Regions from separate parts of the Homo sapiens genome. Here regions 2, 3, 4 and 5 are each linked to region 1. The links come from fine-mapping of genetic effects on gene expression. A gene starts in region 1. Each other region holds a variant in brackets. All regions are shown on one strand. Distances are between the middles of the regions. Region 1 holds the start of CYB5R2 (cytochrome b5 reductase 2). Region 2 holds the start of LOC105376535 (a long non-coding RNA gene). Region 3 overlaps PPFIBP2 (PPFIB scaffold protein 2). Region 4 overlaps PPFIBP2 (PPFIB scaffold protein 2). Region 5 holds the start of LOC283299 (a long non-coding RNA gene).

Evidence for each region. PIP is the estimated chance that this variant, and not a neighbour inherited with it, causes the effect.
Region 2: its variant is fine-mapped to the expression of CYB5R2 in blood mononuclear cells (TOPMed, PIP 0.97).
Region 3: its variant is fine-mapped to the expression of CYB5R2 in sun-exposed skin (GTEx, PIP above 0.99).
Region 4: its variant is fine-mapped to the expression of CYB5R2 in whole blood (TOPMed, PIP above 0.99).
Region 5: its variant is fine-mapped to the expression of CYB5R2 in lung (GTEx, PIP 0.98).

What each region holds. Positions count from the first base shown.
Region 1 is chr11:7,671,049-7,675,166 of GRCh38, forward strand. It overlaps CYB5R2 (cytochrome b5 reductase 2), which reads right to left and starts at 2,452. Exons shown (of 9, transcript NM_016229.5): 1 at 2,371-2,452; 2 at 1,700-1,843; 3 at 1,403-1,475. The coding sequence starts at 1,777. RefSeq lists enhancers at 2,065-2,114, 2,135-2,234 and a silencer at 2,755-2,964.
Region 2 is chr11:7,595,136-7,599,253 of GRCh38, forward strand. It overlaps PPFIBP2 (PPFIB scaffold protein 2), which reads left to right. Exons shown (of 24, transcript NM_003621.5): 5 at 2,425-2,538. LOC105376535 (a long non-coding RNA gene) reads right to left here and starts at 2,045. Exons shown (of 4, transcript XR_007062579.1): 1 at 1,963-2,045. The variant C/A (reference allele first, on the strand shown) is at 1,667.
Region 3 is chr11:7,634,253-7,638,370 of GRCh38, forward strand. PPFIBP2 (PPFIB scaffold protein 2) reads left to right here. Exons shown (of 24, transcript NM_003621.5): 13 at 243-300; 14 at 1,300-1,341. Among named protein-coding and RNA genes, the nearest start is that of CYB5R2, 37 kb to the right of the region's middle. The variant C/T (reference allele first, on the strand shown) is at 1,776.
Region 4 is chr11:7,646,671-7,650,788 of GRCh38, forward strand. PPFIBP2 (PPFIB scaffold protein 2) reads left to right here. Exons shown (of 24, transcript NM_003621.5): 18 at 1,717-1,867; 19 at 2,130-2,241; 20 at 2,477-2,565; 21 at 2,862-2,984. Among named protein-coding and RNA genes, the nearest start is that of CYB5R2, 25 kb to the right of the region's middle. The variant A/C (reference allele first, on the strand shown) is at 2,258.
Region 5 is chr11:7,905,309-7,909,426 of GRCh38, forward strand. LOC283299 (a long non-coding RNA gene) reads right to left here and starts at 647. Exons shown (of 8, transcript NR_036678.1): 1 at 295-647. It overlaps LOC107984307 (a long non-coding RNA gene), which reads left to right and starts at 1,014. Exons shown (of 3, transcript XR_001748116.2): 1 at 1,014-1,358; 2 at 1,854-2,027. RefSeq lists enhancers at 191-1,390, 192-735, 736-1,279, 2,368-2,911. The variant G/T (reference allele first, on the strand shown) is at 2,092.

The DNA.
Region 1 (4,118 bases):
GGTCCCTGAAGCTGATTCAAGGGGATGAGCCAAGTCTTTGAGGTGCCAACACTCTGGGCTCAGAACAGGCTCAATGACTCTGGTCATGGTCCCTCTGGGCACCAGGGATAGCCAGGAGTAAGTGAGACACCTAGCTTCCTTCTGAGAACCTGAAACTGGAAACCTGGAAAGGCTCTTTCATATGCAGCCACCTAGGCCTGGCCTGAGGGTGTCCCCAGGGCAAATGGGGCTCCCTGGCTGGTCCTTCAAGCCCCATCTCTAACTTGCTTCACTTCCACTGGGCTGGGACGAAGCAGCGAACTCTGAGGCCTCATATTAGACTCTCCCAGAGGCCTCTACATTACCTTGTCCCACTAACTTTGCACGGCCTAGGCCAAGGCTGAGGAGATAGTGGGTCAAGGCAGTTTCTAAGCAATTCTCTATCTCAAAGTTTTTCATTCTTTTAGGCTTCCTGCCAACAGGACCTGCCTGACAGGCCGAGCAGGGAGCTGAGAGACGGCACGCACAACACTGAGCTCTCGTGCATAGAGATGGAGTGAGGGAACAGCAAGGAGGCTCAGGGGCCCAGCGAGCTGGCTAGAGTGTAATCTCACCACCTGATAGAGCTGAGGTCAAGGTTTTGGCCTGTGCATATAAGACAAATAGGCCACGGAGTAGGATCCACCAGGCAGGCAAGCAGCACTAGCAGATTATACAAAGCTGCTCTGAATCCCTGATTCTAGCAGTTTTCTACTGCACTAAGACTGACTCAGCTATCTAGTGGTGTTACAGATTAGAAATGGGATAACTCAACTCTAGGACTCCTAGGGCTGGAATCTGCAACTCGTAGGGCTGGTCCCTCCTTATGTGGGTCTGAGGCCCCTGCAGAGAATCTAAGTGACCTTGGGGGCAGGGCACACCTGACTCATTCCTGCCTACCCGCACATTCTGGGCCTTTCCCCGACCACTGGTTCCTCCCATCCCTCCCAGGTGCACAATACTTTGTAGTTTCTGAATTTTCATATCCATCAGTCACTCTACTTTCACAACAACCCAAGTGAGGTAGACAGGCAGGCCTGGGAAATCCCATTTCATAGACTGAGGCTCAGAGAGATTGAAGGACTTCCCTTAAGTTCCCCAGCAAGGAGCCTTCCATGAGATTTTAGGCCTTTTGGCTCTAGGTTCAGTTCTTTTCAATGCTCACTGAGGTACCACTCTCGTGTCAGCCCAATTGGAATAATGAAGAAAAGAAATTTTCTGTCCCACATCCATCCCCCTATCTATCTCCCTGAGCTCACAGGCTCAGGAGGAGCAAGAGGGCATCTTCCACACCTCAGGACGTGGGAAACCTGTGTTTCTGTTAAGAGAGGAGGGCCTAGCCCCCAGAGGCCCCAGTCCTGGTGATGACCCAAGCCCGGCTCACCTACAGGAAGCCCTAAGACATGGTCCGGCGAAGGCAGTCCAAAGCGGAACCTCCGGGTGTTGTGGCTGATTTTCTGATAAAACAAAACATAGGCAGGTTCTGTCAGCTTTCTAGAAGCCTTGCTGGGCAGCTGAGATGCCTGGGAAAGGAGGTCCGTTTGGCGCTATTCCAGCACACACACACACACACACAGGGCGGCGGGGAGTGAACTGGAGGCCATGAGATGACTGTCTGGATGCCCTGCCATCCCAGCCATCATCCACTTACTGCCTTCCACCCACAGGGCTGACCCATTACCTCTTTCTCAATCAAGGGCAGCGGGTACTTGGCTTCAGGGTCCTGTAAGGTGATTGGCTCTCTCCTCCTGGAGTTCATGCTCTTCAGGACCAACACGAGCACAGTGACCCCAGTGACGGTGATGGTCAGGAGCAGGGACGGGTCCTGGCAGACACAATGTGAACAGAGCACCTCAGGTCTTGCCCGCCCTGGACAGGGCAGCTCTCAGGCGCAGAACACCCTCCCCACACCAAAGGCACAGGAGCTGAGCTCTGCCTGCAGGAAATAGGCAAAGAGAACAGTAGTGACACAGAAGGCGGCTGGGAGAGCCTGTCGTGGACCAGAGGGTAGGGAGGGGTCAGCTGCAGGTCACACAGGAAGGATGTTTCAGGCCCCTGGAGCAGGCAGCACACATGGCCTGGGGTGCTCAGGTCACTAGGCCCCTCCTGGCTACAGCCAAAGGTTCATACACTGGAAGTCCCTTCCTTGAGGTGAAGGGGGAGGACATCACCCCTAACACACAATCCGGAATGAGGGGCCCAGTCCCTAAAGACAGAACTAGGGTGCGTAGCTCTAAGAGGTGCCCCGTGACTTAGGGCCTGGGGACTCCCCAACAGTCTCCTGGACAGGGCGAAGGGGGCCTGGGCACTCAACTGCCAGAGACTCGGGAGCCTCCCCGCATCTGTCCCTACCCTACAAGGCCGCCCTGCTCCTCTCCCAACTCAAGCCCGACAGGGAAAGTTGCCTCTCCTCCCGCCGGGTCACTGGAGTCTCAGCCTTCCGGAATCCGAGCCGGCCCGCCCCACTCCCCGCCCTTCGCGGTCCCGCCCACGACCTCTCCCCACGCCTCCCGCTCCGGCCCCCAACCTCCCGGTCGGACGTTCGTTCCCGGCTCTAGCCGGCCTCCGCGCCTCTGGCCTCTTTCCTTCCGGCCGTCCCGACGGAGATATTTCTTCAATACTCCATAAATACACCCCGCCGCGGAACCCACCCGGAGTGAGACGCCCAACACGTCGTCGAACTGGGGTTGGCCGGGGGCCGCTCCCCGCCGCGGGCCCGCAGACTCGTGGCGTCGCCCCGCAGCTCCGCCTGGCCGACGGGGAACCGGCCGAGACCCGGACACGCACGCCCGGGAGGACAAAAGCGCGGGCGGACCCCGCAGGCTGGGACCCCGGCGGCTGGCCCGCTCCCCGAGAAGGGCCGTGGTCGGGGGGCTCTCACTCACGAGCCGCTGGCTCTGGGTCAGCCCTGCCCCCAGGGCAGCGCTCCATCATGAGGCTGGCGGGGCGCTGAGCCGTGGCGTCCTCGCTCCTGCGCTGCCCCTCTGCATCCTGGCCCCTTCCCTGCACACGCAGAGCTGCCACACTGAGCGCCCCTCAGCTTACTTAAGCTCGGCAAGGCTGGAGAAGGCCGTCTGGGTGACCGGGCGGAGGGGGATGCTGGGGAAGGAAGAATTCAGGCAGCTGCAAAGAGCGCGCGAATATATTCATTCGACATACCTCATGGGCGCCTACCCTGGGCCTGGTCCGGGGCGGGTGTTTGCGGGGTGGGGCCGAAGCAGGGGCGTCGCCGAGTTGAAGACGTGTACTCCGAGCGCTCCTGCGTTCATTCATTCGCTGGGTGGAGAGAGGAAGGACAAGAGCCCCGCGCCGATCGGAGGGGAGCAGAATAGTAGGCACAGTTAGAGGGTCTTCACGGTGCGTTTCGGAACCTTGGCTGCCCGGCTCGCCCTTGATTACAGGCAAAGGCAAATTCTTGCCTCAGGACCTGTGTGAAACAGAGAAGCCCAGAAGCAGATCCCCACCTGTTTGACTCTGCTAGGGCTGCTGTAACAAAGTGCCGCAGACTGAGCGGCTTAAACAACAAAAATTTATTGTCTCGCAGGTCTGGGGGCTGGAAGTCCAAAATCAAGGTGTGGGCAGAGTGGGTTCCTTCTGAGGGCTGTGAGGGAAGGATCTGTTCCATGCCTCTCCTAGGTTTGTAGGAGAGGGGCTAGGAGAAGGGGCATCTTCTTCCTATGTCTCCACATTTTCATCCCTCTGTGTGTGTCCCTGTGTCCAAATTTCCCCTTTTATGAAGACACCAGTCATATTCAATTAGGGTCCATCCTAATGACCTTGTTTTAACTTGATTACCTATGTAAAGGCTCTACCTTCAAATAAGGTCATATCCTTAGGTACTGGGGCTTAGGGCTTCAACATAAGAATCAGGGTGAAAACAATAACCCATAACACTTTACCAACCCTTCTCCCCAAGACACACACCACCACAGGCTCAAAAATTCTTGCTGTGTGAATGAATAAACAAACTTAATTTTCTCTCTTTGACTTAATCAAATGCCTTTACTTTTGATTTACCTGCAGGTGCTTGGTTATTATAGGCAGATATTTTAATTTTTGACAATGCGATAAGTGTAAAATGATGTATCAGGAATCCAATT
Region 2 (4,118 bases), 76 kb before region 1:
ACACACTGAGGCAAGAGTGTGCTTGGGGTGTGGGAAGAACAGCAAGTGGCCATTGTGCCTGCAGTCTGTGCTCAAAAGGGTGGTGCGAGCTGCCTTTAGAAAGGTAGCAAGGGCCAGATTGAATAGCACATTGTAGCACAGATGTTTGAGGGATGTGTAATTTGAAACTCTTATCCCAATGACATGATTAATGAAAGAGTATCCAATGTAAGATTTTGCAGCAAACAGTATGAAATTGCAAACTTTTGAACCAGGACCCTTCATGATTGAAATAGCACATTCCTATTTACAGAGGATTACAATTTAATTTTTCAAAGTCCTGTGTAATAATGCTCCCTTTCACATTCATAGTTTTCTAAAATTCCAAATTCTTGAATAATCCCCATTTAAATAATCCTAACACAATTGGGAAGCTGCTTGCCAGTAAAGTCAGAAGTTGACCCTAGTAGTTTCTACTCTACTGGGAGCTTATGGGCAGACTCCAGGAGTGTCTGTTAAGTGATCACTGCTGTTCTGCAGTGGAGCTGGTTAGGCAGATTCTCAGCAGGGTAGAGCCTCTTGCTTAATGCACACAGCAGCTTAGCCAGACTGAATTAATTTAGAGTCCTTGGCCCAGAAAGTTTTCCTGGTTCTACTCATAGAACAAGGCAAATCACACATAACAAAATACTTTGTTTCTAGGATTAGTTAAAAACAAAACCAGAATCTCTTGTATCTTCATTATAATGTAACTCCTTAGGAAAAGGATTTTTATCCTTTTTTTTTTTTTTTAACTTCTGTATCCTCCAGTACCTAAAATTATGCCTAGCATCTATTAGGGTCTCAAAAATAGTTGTTTTTAGTGAACAAAGGTCACATTTTATGACCTTTATGTATTTTGTCTGGATTTCCTACATCCCTTCATTTGTAATACTTAGAATCAGCGTTGAGGTTCAGAAAGCCCCTGGAGCTGAACAATTAGCTATAGAATGCTAGAGATCCTATGATTCCTTGAGTATCACCAACACATGGCCTCAAGGCATGGTATAGACCATAGAAATGTTTAACCCTCATAATAAGATTAACCAGAAAACATCCTTCACAAACAGAAACTCTGGATTCCAGTGAGCAAAGCCCACCCCCAGAGTCCTGCCCTTTTGAAAGTAGAGTTAGTTCAGGATGGCTGAGAGTGTTGGGCCACAGGGATTAATAAACACCCACCCACAAAGGTTTGCGTGTAAGGTGGACCAAGTTGATAGAAAGAGCCCGTTCTTGTTTTTTTTTTTTTTTTTAACATTTTTTTTGGTTAAAAGTGGAATGTTAACCATGTGTCAACTCCAGGAATATGTTTCAATAATTCATTAATCATTTGGGAAAATAAAAATGGAGATCTTAAAGTAGGCATATTAATTTAGATTAGTTCCTTTTTAAACAGGCGCTTTATAATTCAGAAAGTTTATCTAAACACTCATAAATGAATTCACATCAACTCATGCACCATCTATTATTCCATTTCAGACTGAGAAATAATTCTGGATAATCTATATGTAAATGGCAACAACTCTAACCAAAAAGGTCTAAAGGATCTCAGTTTATCAACTGCTAATTTCTTCACTTTGGGGAGGACACTCATTCTCTCTCTTCTTGCTTTGAACCATCTCTTAATAAAGAAAAAGGATCCTGGGGC[C/A]GTTTGCTAATAGAGAAGGCTATGAAAACCATTGTTAATATATAGTTAGTGCATAATTTGAATGACTTCCTGTAAATGAGTTTTTACTAATTAATATTTTTAATAGGGATTCTCAGCGTTCTTCAGAAAGATGACTTTTTTTCTGCCACCGTATGTGTAATGTGGCTTCTCTATATTTATGACTTAGAGTCATGTTTTGGCCTGTGAAGCACAATAACCTTTCTGGAGCCAAGTTTTGTCAGTGCTAATACATGCCCTTTACAGCCCACATTCCTTAATTGCATCAAAACACTCACCTGATAGGTGAGCAGTCCTCACACCCTTATGAGAGAGGTAAGGTCATTGGTTAGTTTCCATGAAGTTTGGACCGCTCTTCCACACGAGGTTGCAGAAGTGCTGGCAAGCCAGCTGAGATGTGCCTTGAGGTCGGGGCTGTTCTGGAAGAGGAATAAGGAGCAGGAGTCCAGCCCAGAGGCAGCTCCTGTGGCTGTTGGGTGTTTTACTCTTGAGTCTATCAAGAGCAGTAAACGTGACCCATGTCATCAGAGCAGTGGCCGAGACTCCCTGGTAAGGTAAGAATCTAACTGCAGCTGCCTTCGTTCAGGACACTTCCTCCACCTGCCACTCAGCAAAAATCAAAATCGTTCACTGTGTGTAAGAGTCAGTGGTGAGATTTAACGGCTCCCCTGAGGTGGGGAGGCTTTCCTGCACCATGTCAAATCCCTGGTCCTCCACCATTGCTTTATTTCCTGGAACAGGTGAGTGTCCTCACAGACCAAGTAGAAGCCCAGGGAGAAAAGATTCGAGACCTGGAAGTGTGTCTGGAAGGACACCAGGTGAAACTCAATGCTGCTGAAGAGATGCTTCAACAGGTAAGGGCGGGTGCACTGAAGGCCCTTGGGTGCCGAAGCAGCTCATGTGCTGAAGCCCCTTTGTGTGCCCAGGCTACAGCCCTCGCTGTCTGCTTTCCCATCCTGCCTGGGGGCGGGATTGGCTGCTCAGTTGTACGGTGTTTATACAGCAGGTGAAACCAACCTGAACGTTGAGAGTGGCAGAGGGGGTAGGGAAGGGAAGGGCTGCCCTGAGATGAATAACCTGCTGAGCTGGTTAGACAGATTCCCAGACAGCACTTTCTCCAGACCTGGTGCAGTGAGGGAGCGCTCGGCTGGGGGCCTCACCCTCATCCTGTGGGTGCCATCTGGAGTTTTAGAAAGTCAATTCTCAGCTGATTCTATGCCCCTTTCCCATCTCGCTCTGCCTCTTCCTACTGTATATAGTTTTTAAAATAAAAATATTATATAAATAACCTTTTAGTATAATTTAATAGATATCAAAATGGAAAAAGATATTTAACTGTTCCCTACCATTCAAATAATGTCTTCTCCTTGTTTTCTTTTTGTCCTTGTTATGTGTACATGTACTTTCCAAATCTGTAATCACAAGAGATATGCAATTTAGTCCTCAGATTTTGTATGCTTAATATTATATTTTTCCCATTTAAAATTTTTGCTGTATTGTCATCTTTACTATCACCTATAATAGATTTTCTTAGTAAAAGTATCAGAATTGACTTAACTTTTTTTCAATTCCTAAATATTTTTACTGTATTATAAATAATGAGCTACAATTTTTTAGGAAGGGGTGTTGAATTTTTATTGTATCAAAACTTCAGAATTTGTTGAGAAGCGAATTAGGTTTTTAAATGAAATGTATTAATATATCTAATCTTAAATTTTCCTTAAGTCATTCTTACATTTTAAGTTATCTTGAAAATTAAACAATGACTGAAGTTTATGTGTGTATGCCTTATAACTCCTGGCATAGTACTTGGCACATAAAAGGTACTCACAATTACTTAAAGAACAAAAGTTTGTTCCTTAAAATGAGTGGATTCAATTAGAGGACTACTTATAATCTTTCCTCCAAAAGCGCTAGCATTTTTTTTTTAATTGTCATGATCAGCATAAGACTCAGATTGTTTCTTGACAGCATACTGGTGAACACAGGCTTTGCATTTTACCTTTGGTCTCATGACAAATGTCATGAGAATTAATCTGGTGTTTGTTAGTTTTGTTTGAGTGCCTTTGAAGAACTTTATACAAATGTAAGTCAGTGTTTTTATATATATGTCTTCATAAAAACCCGTTTCAATGATTCAGGAACTTTTGTTTGTTATCTTTTCATTGCTGATTAATAAATTACCACATTCTTGGCGCCATTTGATTTTCTACTTAGGTTGTGTGCCATTTCTCTTGTTCATAATATTTCCTAAAAATCTGACTAGCAAAAGGAATTGAGGCTTTTTTTTTTTAATTGAATCTTTCTTTTGAAGACCCAGGAAAGAAAATAGCCTGATGGAAAAAAATCTCAAATGATGAAAGTATTTTCACAAAGAGTGCAGAAAACAACCTACTAGATTGTGTTTTCAAGTCTGCACAAGGTGTGTTTTTGA
Region 3 (4,118 bases), 37 kb before region 1:
AACATTTCATTTGGATTTAAGTGACCCTGTCATGCCCTTACTAACACATTATTGGACCAGTCTGTCCCCCAAGGTGGGCCAGTCTCATTTTGTATGTAAAGGCTATTATGAGAGGGTATTTTTTTTTCTTGACTTTGAACCTAAGCCCAAGACCATCGGTTAAGCATTTGAAATGTCCTCTGCATGAGTGATAACATGTACCTCCTTCTCATAACTATTTCTTTCTTTTGTGTTTTTTTCAGGGCTCAGAAAAAGCTCTCTTGTAGTCTAGAAGACTTGAGAAGTGAATCTGTGGATAAGGTCGGCTCATCAACCTATCCTTAAAGATGACTGAGTTACTTTTTTGGGCCTAGCATAGTACTGGGATATACAGGCAGGTCCTGGTCCCTACCTTGTAGAGGATTTTATAAAGTTGTAGAGGAAGCAGGAATTACATGAACATTTTGAGAAAATTAACTGGGTGTGGCCCAAAGCATCTTAGAGGAAGGACAATTCAGGAAATGTTGCCTGGAGTTGATGAGAGAAGATGTTGAGATCAGCAAAGCTTGGTTAGAGTCTGCTGAGCAATAGCAGGTTTTGGAAGATGGTGGAGAGTAGGAGGAGGTAAGGTCAGAGCCATGAGACAGATCAAGCCAGGGAAGATCTTGACTACTAGTCCTATATCCCTGGGGCACTTGGGGACATCGTATAGATTTTTTTAATGATGAATTAATGTGAATAAAGGAGATGATCCCAAGGAAAGATGTGGGATCGTCAGGATGTTGGAGAGTGAGCTGTTGTAAGAGTCTGGAAAGATGGAGGAGGGTCTTGTGGCTCCTTATATAGGAGTAGCCCTTGATCATGTGGGTGGACCTCATGCTGCAGGGGACAGTAGCAGGCTCTTGAGCTTGGTCATTAGAGACCAAGGGAGCCTGCCCTGATAGAGACCCTTCAGTGAGCCTGTGCTGCATACCATCCCTTGGTCTCCAATAATGTTCATCAGCCTCCTTGTTGATACAGTGGAGAACCATAAAGGCTGAAGTCTGCAGGAGCCCTGGGATCATTCAGTGGCTCTGCTCCCATGGTCACGTGTCTCTCGGTTGCCATGGTCATGTTGCTGGCAGCTGCCCAGGACATCTGTCCATGGAGTTGGACAGGGATCTTTCCTGCCCTGGATGGTGATTACTTGACATGAAGATGTGGAGGGAGGGGATGCGCCTTTCAGATTTAAGCAAACAGGTAGTCCTGAGTTGTTGCTGTTTGTGAATAACACAAGTCTCTTTTTCTCCACATAAACGAAATCCTCATGTTACTCCATAGTGTATGGATGGGAACCAGCCCTTCCCGGTGTTAGAACCCAAGGTACATTGACTTCGTGCCCCGTCGTCTATTTGTGGTTACACTGTTTGCTAGTATTTTAATTTAGCAAGTCATAGTTTTCATAACCTTAAAATGTGCCAACTGTAAGGAGTAAGAGGGCAAGAGGAAAGACGCAACTTTTCTCTCCCATTTTATTTTTATGTGCACTCAGCTATTTAATATGCTTTTGCTATCATTATCTGTGGGACAGGATTTATTATTATCACCTCCATTTTATAGGCTCAGAGAAATTAATCTTTAACAAAGTAATCTAGATTTAATCACTGGGAAGGGGATTGCTACGATCTCAGCACACTGAAGAACGTGACAGCTCTCATCCTTTCTGTGCTGATATGTCATGGTTAAAAAAACACAAGTGTACACTCAGTCCCGCTTTGATGAACAAGTTATGTTATAAAAATTCCATTAGGACTGAT[C/T]TTCTCCAGGGAAGCCTGTTGTGGAAGAGGATTAAGTTTTTAGGCCAGTGCACAAAATGTTGAGCCCATAAAGAAATGAAGATTCATATAATTAGCATGATTTCAGCCACACCCAACCACCATTTATAACATTATATGGAAAATGTATTGTGAGGCTGATGGCATTTCCCTTCTCTGTCCCCTGCCTCCATGTCCATATGAAACATGGAGCTTCTCATTGCTTGCTGACTTCTGCCTGAGAGGGTCATTTTATATTTTCACGGTAAAATGGGGCATCTCTGCTCCTCCACATCTGCGTAAGAGAAAGATCTTTTCTGCACGTCTGCATCTATATAAGGGGCTTCTCTACTCTTCCATATTTGTAGCAGTTGGTTCTTCAAGTGGGCAGCCATTCCTTGGGCCATCTGAACTGTATAGCAAAAGTCTTCTGCCTGCTCCCCTGCCCAGGTGCTCTGCAACACAGTCCCTTGAGCCTGGGGTTGGTGTGGTCCCTTTGTGAACTGAAAGGCTTCCTATGGCGTCAGCTGTTAAATCGCTCAGCAGTCCCCCCTCCCACCTCAGCGTCACAGAGGTCATTCGCAGGTGTTTCTAAAGCACACCTGTAAGTGACCACCTGCTCCTTTGGAAACACACCCAGCTCACAGGCTCAAGGTTTAAGACGCCAATTTGATTACCAAGAAATATAAGTAACGTAGAACTATTTATAAAGAAAAAAATGCTCCAGATTAAAAGATTAATTCTTACATGGTTTTGGCCATAATCACAATCTTATACAACCTCAGTTATTCAACATGACCACCCTCCCCTCTCACCCACATACACCACCGTCCTCCCCAGAATAGCTACACAGGTGCAGAACCGCTCCACAGTCATCTTTCTGCAGCATCCCTAACTGTAGTGTCTGGCCCTTGCTTAAACTGGCTCTTGCTTTCTGTGACTGAGAGCTCATTTCATTGGAAGACATCCTTTGTATTCTTTTGCAGCTGTGTGAGCTTCTCTAAAATGTGCATCTGCTGATCCTCTCCCTCCACATCTAGCCCATGGAAAAAGTCAATCTCCCCTACTCCTGACAGCTCTGGAATTTAAGTCCCTCATGCCCTCTCTGAGTGCTCTGTTCTCTGGGCTGAACATCACCTTCTCATGTGCATGGATCACAAGCCTTTTAAGCTGCTACTTAGTCTTCTTAGGCTCAGCGCTAGTTTCTCAATGTATTCTTCAAGTTCTGCCCTGGACCAGACTTGGAGTGTGATATTCTAGATGTAGTCTGACCAGTGCCTGCCGTGGTCTAAGGACTCCTCTTCTAGATTGCTATTTCTTTAGGCCCTGGGTATGTGATATTTCCTGTGCTTCTCCTTATCCACTGTCCGCTGTGTGCTAGGCCCTGTGGATATGTTATTTCCTGGCAAACCTGAGGTAGGAATTGTTATTCTCCATTTAGAAATGACCAGAGGTCCTGAGAGGTGGAAGAGAAACAGCTCTGTCTGAGTTGGTCTGACTCAAAGCCTAGGCCCTTTCCACTCTGGCATGCTGCTTCTCTGTTGTAATTTAAAGCAGCTGGATAATCAGTTCTACACTACTCCCTTGGCTGGGGCTTCTGTTCCCCTACAGCCAGGAGGATTGTTCTTTTTGGAGACAGGAGAAACAGAACTGGAGTTGAGCATCCTTGTTTCCTCTGCGTCACGTCTTGACATTGCACTGCCTTCCACATCAGTGAGTCATTTCTTCCCAGCCCTTATTCTTGGCCTGAGCAGAGCTCAGAGAGCCCTTTCCATTGTCCTTGATTCCTTTTTGCTGTCTTTCTTACAGGTCGGGGCTGCCTTTTAAACCCCATCCTTGGGTTAGGTATGTGTTCTCCTTGCATCTCAGCTCCTCAGGGAGCTCCCCGGGTGGCCCACTTGCTTCCTTGGCTGTCTCTGCCCTGCCTTGAGGGAGCATGCGTGATGATGCAACCAGAAACACGTTTTTGAGAGCTCTTCCCCCCTCCATATGTCGTATATAATAGGGAGCTTGGAGTCATGCCCTTCAGGTCTCTAACATCTTTGAACACTACCTTCTCACAGTCAGTGGTTCCTGGGTCTGACTGCATTAGTATAATCTGAGATAATCTGAGATCCTTGTTAAAAATATAGACATCTGGGGTGTGCTTCCAGAGGGACTGAATCAGGGACTGGGCACTGGGAATTCATGTTGTTTTACAAGTGCTCCAGGTAATTATGAAGAGCAGCCGGCACATGAACTACCACTTGGAAACTGTGGGTCTTGACCGTATGTCTGATCATGTCTAATCTTCACCTCATGGGTCATCACAAACTTGAAAATCTCATAGCCTTCCTCTCTGAAGGT
Region 4 (4,118 bases), 24 kb before region 1:
GCTGTAATTACATCACTACACTCCAGCCTGGGCAGCAAAGCCAGACCCCATCTCTAAAAATAATTAATTACTAACACCCTGTCTCTAAAATAAATACCCCATCTCTGAAATAACAAATACCCTGTCTCAAAAAAGAATCAAACTATAGAGGTACATCAAGATTTTATATAATGAAATATTTCTAGATTTTGTGATTTTTTTTTCAGTTTTGCAAAACTTGCAATTTTTTGTGGCTTGTTTTCTAATTCTAAATATTCCCTTTGTTTCTAATTGTATATTCAAATTTTATACTATTTTGAAGAGAAAGTTTGTAAGTTCCAGGCCTCGTAAAATATTTTCAGGACCCATGAAAGCCCAGGTTCCAGATTATGATTGATCAGTCCCTGCCCCAGGGTATACATTATCTCTAACATTTGATCTAAAATGGGGCATTCTTATCATGCTTATCCTTTGAGGAATTCCCTCACTTTAACAACAGCTCAACCAGGCATTTAAAAAAATATGTTTTAATCTAATATGTTAGGGGTACTTTGAAGGAATCTTTCTGGTCTTTGAAGGAATATCTACGATATTCTATAAATCCTCATTTATGAACATAAAGTTGCTCTGTCGAATCCCCCCTAAAAAAATGACTCTATTGGGATTTTTAGTGTGCTATTCACACTTTAAATGAAAAATGGATGTCTTTAAGAATTGATGGCTTTATAAAACCCAGTCATCCTGTCTAGGAACATAATCTAGCTTTTCATTTATTCATGTCCTTTTTTATCTAGCTCAGTTGACTGCTGCAGTCAATACCTCTCCCCACCCCCGCAATCCCCACACATAATCACACAAGGCCAAACATCTCTTGTTAAGGCAATTCCTAGACGTTTTATAATGTTGGTTGCTATGAGTGGGATTTTTAAATTGTTTTAACAGTAGCATTAGTATCTGTGCATTGATGGTATTAGAAAATTATTGATCTTTGTATGTAACATACGTTACATATGTTTATATGTGTATTTCGTAAGTGGCCACCTCACTGAGCTTTCTTGGGTTTTCTAAATGGGCAGTCCTGACATCTGTAAAGAATGGCTTTATTTCTGCCTAATAGCTATACTTCTTGTTCTTATTTATCTCTAATACTGGCTATGACTCTCAGACCAGTGTTGTTAGTACTGATGAAAAATATATTGTCCTTTTATTGACTTTAATGTGAATGTTCCTCCTGTTTTGTTAATAAGTAATGTGCTAGCTGTTGTTGATTGGCAAGTTTTTGCTTTTAGTTTTGGGTGTTTTGTTTTTTTTCTTTTTAATGTTAAGAGAACTGACCCTCTTAAATGCTAAGAAAAGTAGTTTTCTAAGCATTTTCCTAAAAAGATGATTCCGCCTAATGAGGCCACAGCTCTGGACTTGTGGCATGTATATGTGTGTATGCGGACCTAGGACATGTGAACATGATCTCAGGAGGGCCATACAGGCTGCCCCATTCTCTAAGTAGCCTGAGATTTGAAATTCAGATCTTGTGTTATTAAGAAAACTCTAGGGTCTACCTCCTATGAGTGTGTTGTAGTGGAATTTTGTTCAGCAGAATCCCATGATGGAGGTTGTTTGTTAAAAAACAGGTTTTTTGTTTTGTTTTTTCTTTTCTTTTCTTTTGTTTGTGAGACATGATTAGATTCAGAACCTCAGGCTCTCCCACTAACAGGAATATGCTGTTTTCCTGCTTCCCAGTGACGCCAATGCCCCCTTTGCCCAGTGGAGCACAGAGCGTGTGTGTGCATGGCTGGAGGACTTTGGCCTGGCTCAGTATGTGATCTTTGCCAGGCAGTGGGTATCTTCTGGCCACACCTTATTGACAGCCACCCCTCAGGACATGGAAAAGGTAAGGGCTCAGCTTGGGGAGAGGAGGCTCCCATTTCTCCCCAAAGCATGGGGAGGCCAGGGTCCGCCACTCCTGTCACACATACACACAGGAGGATGGATGGAGGAGGCTGAGAGTTCCTCTGTAGCTGCAGGTTGGCATCCCAGGGCACGGTGTGGAGATACACTGCCATACTCAGAGCATCTCCACCCAGACACAGCTTTCTCTGAGGGCCAAATTGCCTGCCAAAATTTCACATGTGGTCTTCATCTTTTAATTTCAGGAGCTAGGAATTAAGCACCCACTCCACAGGAAGAAGCTTGTTTTAGCAGTGAAAGCCATCAACACCAAACAGGAGGAGAAGTCTGCACTGCTAGACCACATTTGGGTGACAAGTAAGGATAGGCATAT[A/C]TGTATTAAGAATGTCTCTGGCAGCAACTAAGAGTAGAAAGAATTTTCCTGTTAAATGGGTACCTCAAGGACAGCTGTCTCCTTGTAAAAAGCAGAGGAATTACTAAACTTTTGGGGGAATAAAACGAACCTCAAAATATAATTTGCTCCCCTTTTTTTGGTGTCTACATTCTCTCATTCTCATGAATCCTGACACATCTGGGGTTTTTGTATTTGTAGGGTGGCTTGATGATATTGGCTTACCCCAGTACAAAGACCAGTTTCATGAATCTAGAGTTGACAGACGAATGCTGCAATACCTAACTGTGGTGAGGACTTTTTCTTTAAATATTTCAGTTGTCCCTGTGAGCACTCAGCTCACGTGTACCCATGGTGGTTATTTTAAACTTGATTCCATATATTCTTAAGGCCTTGAAATAGTATCATTTGTCACAAAAGAGGTCCCAAGTAGCAGAGTACAAACCACTGTGATAAGCTATTGGTGTCTCCACGTGCACCTTCCTGAGATGTGGTTGACTTGTCTATGCTTGGTCTGGTGAGGGACATCAGGGGTCTTTTGTCACTTTGGAAACTCTGGTTTATAAACCAAACTTTCCTCTTTCAGAACGATTTACTCTTCTTAAAAGTCACCAGCCAACTACATCATCTCAGCATCAAATGTGCCATTCACGTGCTGCATGTCAACAAGTTCAACCCCCACTGCCTGCACCGGCGGCCAGCTGATGAGGTGAGACCACAAATAGTATCTCTCCAGGTAGCCCTGAGCCAGGACCCCTGAAACATCGAGCATGAGCAAACAAGAATGACATCATAAAAGCACTGTTTTTTGCACCATGGTGCCTGGGATTCTTTTGTTTGCTTGTGCTTCCTGTTGCCCCAAACATCCGTTACCTGCACTTTGTGTCTCACAGTAGCCATAGACCTCTAAGCTCCCACCCTCCACTGGGGAGACACATGCTATAAAGTCATCATAGTGATTAAAGGAGATGAGGAGATGGTGCAAAGGAGAGGGGGAGGGAAAGACAAAATGGAAAGATGGGTGTCACAGTAGAAGAGAAGAGAAGAGACAGAGGAGGGGGAAGAGGAGCCCGTAGAAGCTAGACATTTCAGAATAGGTATCCCTACTTGTAGATCCAAAATTAACTGACTTCCAGGCCCAGGTACAGGGGATCCATGAGTAGTCTTGCTAGAGAAGAAATAGTATACGTAAATAACAGCACCCCAAGTCTTGAAGAAATAACTGATTATGTTCCATGAACTTCGGAGTTCTTGGTGGACCCCCAAACTGAAGATTGTCAGTCACATCCTATCTCCTCTGTTCCTGGGAACTAGGTCTAACCTTGCTGTAAAATTAACTCAGCTTCCTGGGCTGCTACCTTTGCTGTCTATCTCCTATTTTCTCCTTATTCAACCAACATGTTTTGAATGTCTTGTATATGTCAGGCACAGCGCTGTGCATTTTTAAGACCACAGTGCTACGTGAGAGCACTTAGGAATAAGTACCTTAAGGTGTGCTCCCCTAAAATCATTGGCCACACCAGGGAGATCTTTCATCTATAAACCACTTGGATTGTAAAATTGACAGTCATCTTTAAAGTTCTGTTGAATCACTGAAAGAATAACTATAATGTCCTCATTTATTTGTCTCAAAGTTAGCTGGAAAATGATGGAGTAACAGAATTCTGGATTCAGATATCTCAGTGTGGAAGATCTTCAAAGATTCAGTGGGAGCTCTATTTCCTAGAAACTGGGGAGGCTGGTGCTCTGGCAGATGGGGTGGGTCACTAAGCTTGAGGGCCTTCTATTGTTGTGATGCGTCTGGGGCAGGGTTACTTACCGGGGCTGACTCCACAGAGGACCA
Region 5 (4,118 bases), 230 kb after region 1:
CTTTTTGATGAGCCTGTTTTAATCCTTCTCCTGCTCTATCCCAGTTTTCCACATCAAGAGTGCCTGCCTGTGGAAACCATGAGTTATGCATAATAACTTTGTGTGGCTTCTGCAGGAGGTTAGTGTCTGAGAATTAACCTGAGCTCCAGACTGTCTCAACAGAACTTTAAGCAACTGCACATAATGTTTTTCTTCAACAGACAAGTTATTCCCCCTGCTACCCTGATTCAGAAAGCTTCCCATTCCCAGCACTTCTATAAAGCACTGCTCCCAGTACCTCTTTAGAGCACTGACCTTATATATGCTGCCGGCAGACTCATCCTGGGGTCCCCGTTTGCCTTGTCAATTTCAGCTTCTCTGCTCCAGCAGATCTTTTTTGTTCACATCGTCGAAGTCCCGTGTTCAGACGCCACTTGTTGGCATCCTTGGCGTCCCTGTTCTGAGTCACCACTTGTTGAGAACCCAATTGTGTCACTGTTTGGGGCACCACTATGTAACCTGCATGGACCTAGGGGGACTGAACAAAGGGGGCAAACACGGGAATAAAAGACAAGAGGCAAAAGAGTATATTTGGAAGAAGGGGTCGGAGGGCACCTTGTCTCTAGTGGACAAGGGCCCTGAGCTTTACACTGCCCTCCATATTTATTAGGCAATAGAGATAGTGAGAAGGTGGGGAGTGGTTGTTGGCCAGCAGCTTGATTCGCAGCAGGCTTGCAAGACTGCATTCTTAGGTGCTAGACTTCTCAATAGATAACTTCAAGGAGCCCAGCGCCAGGGAGTGAGGCCCTCAACAAACCTTTTGGTGGCAGGGCAGTGTGAGTTTGCCCACATCCTGCATTCATGATAAACAGTTTGCTGTTTGATCCTATAGCCTCCAGCGAAATGCTGAGTTGGTCACTTCCCAGGGGCCTTCAGCTCCCTGCACCTCACATTCTGTATTTGTCCTGATTAGCCAGCAACTTAGAACTTTTTAAAAGAGGCAAAGGCAGAGGAGAACAAAGGAGGAAGTAACTTGTGGAATGCTGAGAAAGGTAAAAACACCTCCAAATAAGGAAGAGGAACAGACTATGACTTAATACTTGCTTGGACCAGTGTAAGCATGCCAGGGCAAATATTTAGGCTAAATTGTGGGAGCTAAGAACACAAAGTACATTGATTTCTTTATTATAGCTAGCAGATATCTAAGAATGTTAGCACAGGTCTTTGAATAAATTTTGTTTCTGAGAGAAGTTACTATTTATTCCTAATTAGACGGGGAGGAAAGTCTCTTTGAAGAGGAACCTCTATTTTATTTTTACACTCAGAAGCCCGGGCAGCTCTGCCGGGAGTGCAGGGAGGCAGCTCTCCTGGGGGTGCAGGTAGGCAGCTCTGCTGGGGGTGCGGGGAGGCAGCCAGGCTTTTGTTGCACTTCCATCTACTGGCAGCACACACAGAAAGGAAATACTCCCAGTGGCTAGATTCCACCCATCATATCATTGGACTGAGTGAAAACTTTCAGAACTCTAATTTAAAAAATGAATGCATTCATGAATATTACTAACCTAACATCCAGCTGAATAATAATTAAATACATGGGGCTAGCCTGACAGAGGGTGGAAATGCTTTCTTTAACTTTTCTCTTTGAAACATTGCTGATTATTTTATGTTTTGTTTTCCAGAGTCAAGAAAATGTCTCTTTTTAGCTAATTATAGCTTACAGCAACTGGGTAACCTTTTGTGAGCAAAATTAAAACATCTGCATTTCTCCCTACCTGATTTCTCTAAAATTTGGAAACTATTCATGAGTATTTGTATTTTGTGGCAATATAGTTATTTGCATAAGATCAATAAGAATCTGTTTTCTTTTGTAACAGAACACATTGGATACACCGGTTATTTTACCAAGGCTTTGGCTGGAATGTTACATTTTTGAATGTGACCAAACTGCTTTGAGGAATTGAGGCTGACTTTATAAAGCCAATAGACATGGGAAAGACTGGCCTCATGCCTTGCCCACACGGTTCTCTTACAAGGTTCCTCAGCTTGCGGTAAGTAAAGACTGTCATTTTCTGATGCACCCAGGAACCACAAGATATTTTGGGTCATTGAGAA[G/T]ATAGGAATTCACTCAATTTTTACATATGTTACAAGCAGTCCCACAGTGAATCCCTGGCTTGGCTTACTAGTCTTTAGAGGTTTTAAAAGTGTAATCTGAGATTTCTTATTAAAAATTCTGCAAAGTCAATGGAAAAGAGCCTATATGGCCAATCATTCTTCTTGTTGCACATTTTGCAAATAATCAGGCCAAGTATAATACTAAAACTTATTTAGCCAATAAATTTGTCCTACTAACATTTATATTTGGTAGGAATGGGGAACTGGGGAGAGAAAAAAATTGTTTTAGAAGGAAACTATACCATCCTTCTTATAAGATTCTAGCCCTGACCATTGTTTTTTAGTTGTTTTTTAGTTTTTACTATTTGTCTACAATTTGGACTGAATTCTGAATAATGTCCCAGCTCTAACAATCCTCCAAAGAAGAAATTGGATTTAATTTCCTTCATGATATTTTTAGTTGACTCCCCAGTAGAATAGGTTTTGTTGTTGTTGTTCTGATATACAAATTCTTTTTTTGATTATAATTCCTATATGCATTACATATATCTCTTGTTTTACTTCTTCCACAAAGACTAAACTCATGATATTCTGAAGACTAACAATGATTCAACAAGCAACAGCAACTACATACTTGACTGAGGTGCCATTTTTGCCACCTGTGATGCCATCTCAATTTGGCTTTTGACAGTCTTAAAATTCCTCATTGTAACATTTCCTCACCTCTCCTTCCCATGTGAGACAGCACCATCATGAGCCTTCTCAAACTGAAGGAGGAAGGATATTGATCACTCTAACCTAAGCAGAAATTGATCATTAATGTTTCCATGGAAAGATTTTTGATCAACAGGTGGGAAATGAGAAAAAAAATTGCTCAGAGCCATCTAAGTTATGTGAAGCATACAAAATTTGTCAGGCCCAGAGAGACATGAGTATGGTTATGGGACCTCAATCACACCTCTCACACCCATACCCAGGGCCAACTGTTTAAAGACATTTTGTTCCTGACTAGCTGCTTTGCCCATTATCTTCATGTTCCTGGAGTTTGTGATACAAAGAACAGTGTATAACCAATCAATAGCTTATGTTATTTTAATGTAAATTCTTGGTAAACAACTTGGGAACTGCCTCTTTGTTTCCTTTAAAACCCACTTGTAACTGCTGCTCATAGGGGTGTATATTCAGGTTAACTTGCATCTACGCTCTTGCGTTGCAGTGTTCAAGCTTAGTCCAAATGAACTCTCTACTTACATTGTTTGCCTCGATTTTTTTTCTTCTTTCCGTTGACATATCAATGCAAGGGACCGGAGCAAATATTCCTAGACTGAAACAGATTAAATGCAAGAAAGAGAAGAAAACTTGAAAATATGCATTATCATTGTAGAGAGACTCAATGATTTTTAAAAGAGCATATTCTCAAAAAAAAAGAGATCAATTTTAAAACAATATAGGGGAAATCTTAAAATGGTTTTAAAAATAACTCTGTGGAGAAATGGAGTAACAAAATAGATAACACTGAATACCAAATGATGAGTTAGAAATTCACAGAATGAATTTGATTGAAATTCACGTAAAATTAATGAGAAGTAAAAATTATCATGAAAAAGATAGGAAACATGGAGAATTGATCTGATAGCTCCAATACTCATAGGAGTTTAGATTAAAAAGCAGAAGTGGGGTGGAAGCTATACCCCAAAATAAAAAAGAGCAGAAATAAAAGCAAATCTCATTTTTGCTACACTGGAACTAGAAAACAGTGAAATAATGTTTAGAGTTTCTTTCTTCTTCTTCTTTTTTTTTTTTGACAAAGTCTCCCTCTTGTCCCCTAGGCTGTAGTGCAATGGTGCGATCTCAGCTCACTGCAACCTCTGTGTCCTGGGTTCAAGTGATTCTCCTGCCTTGGCCCCCTGAGTAGCTGGGATTACAGGTGCCTGCCACCACACCCAGCTAATTTTTTTATTTTTAGTAGAGACGGTGTTTCACCATGTTGGCCAGGCTGGTCTAGAACTCCTGAACTCGGGTGATCC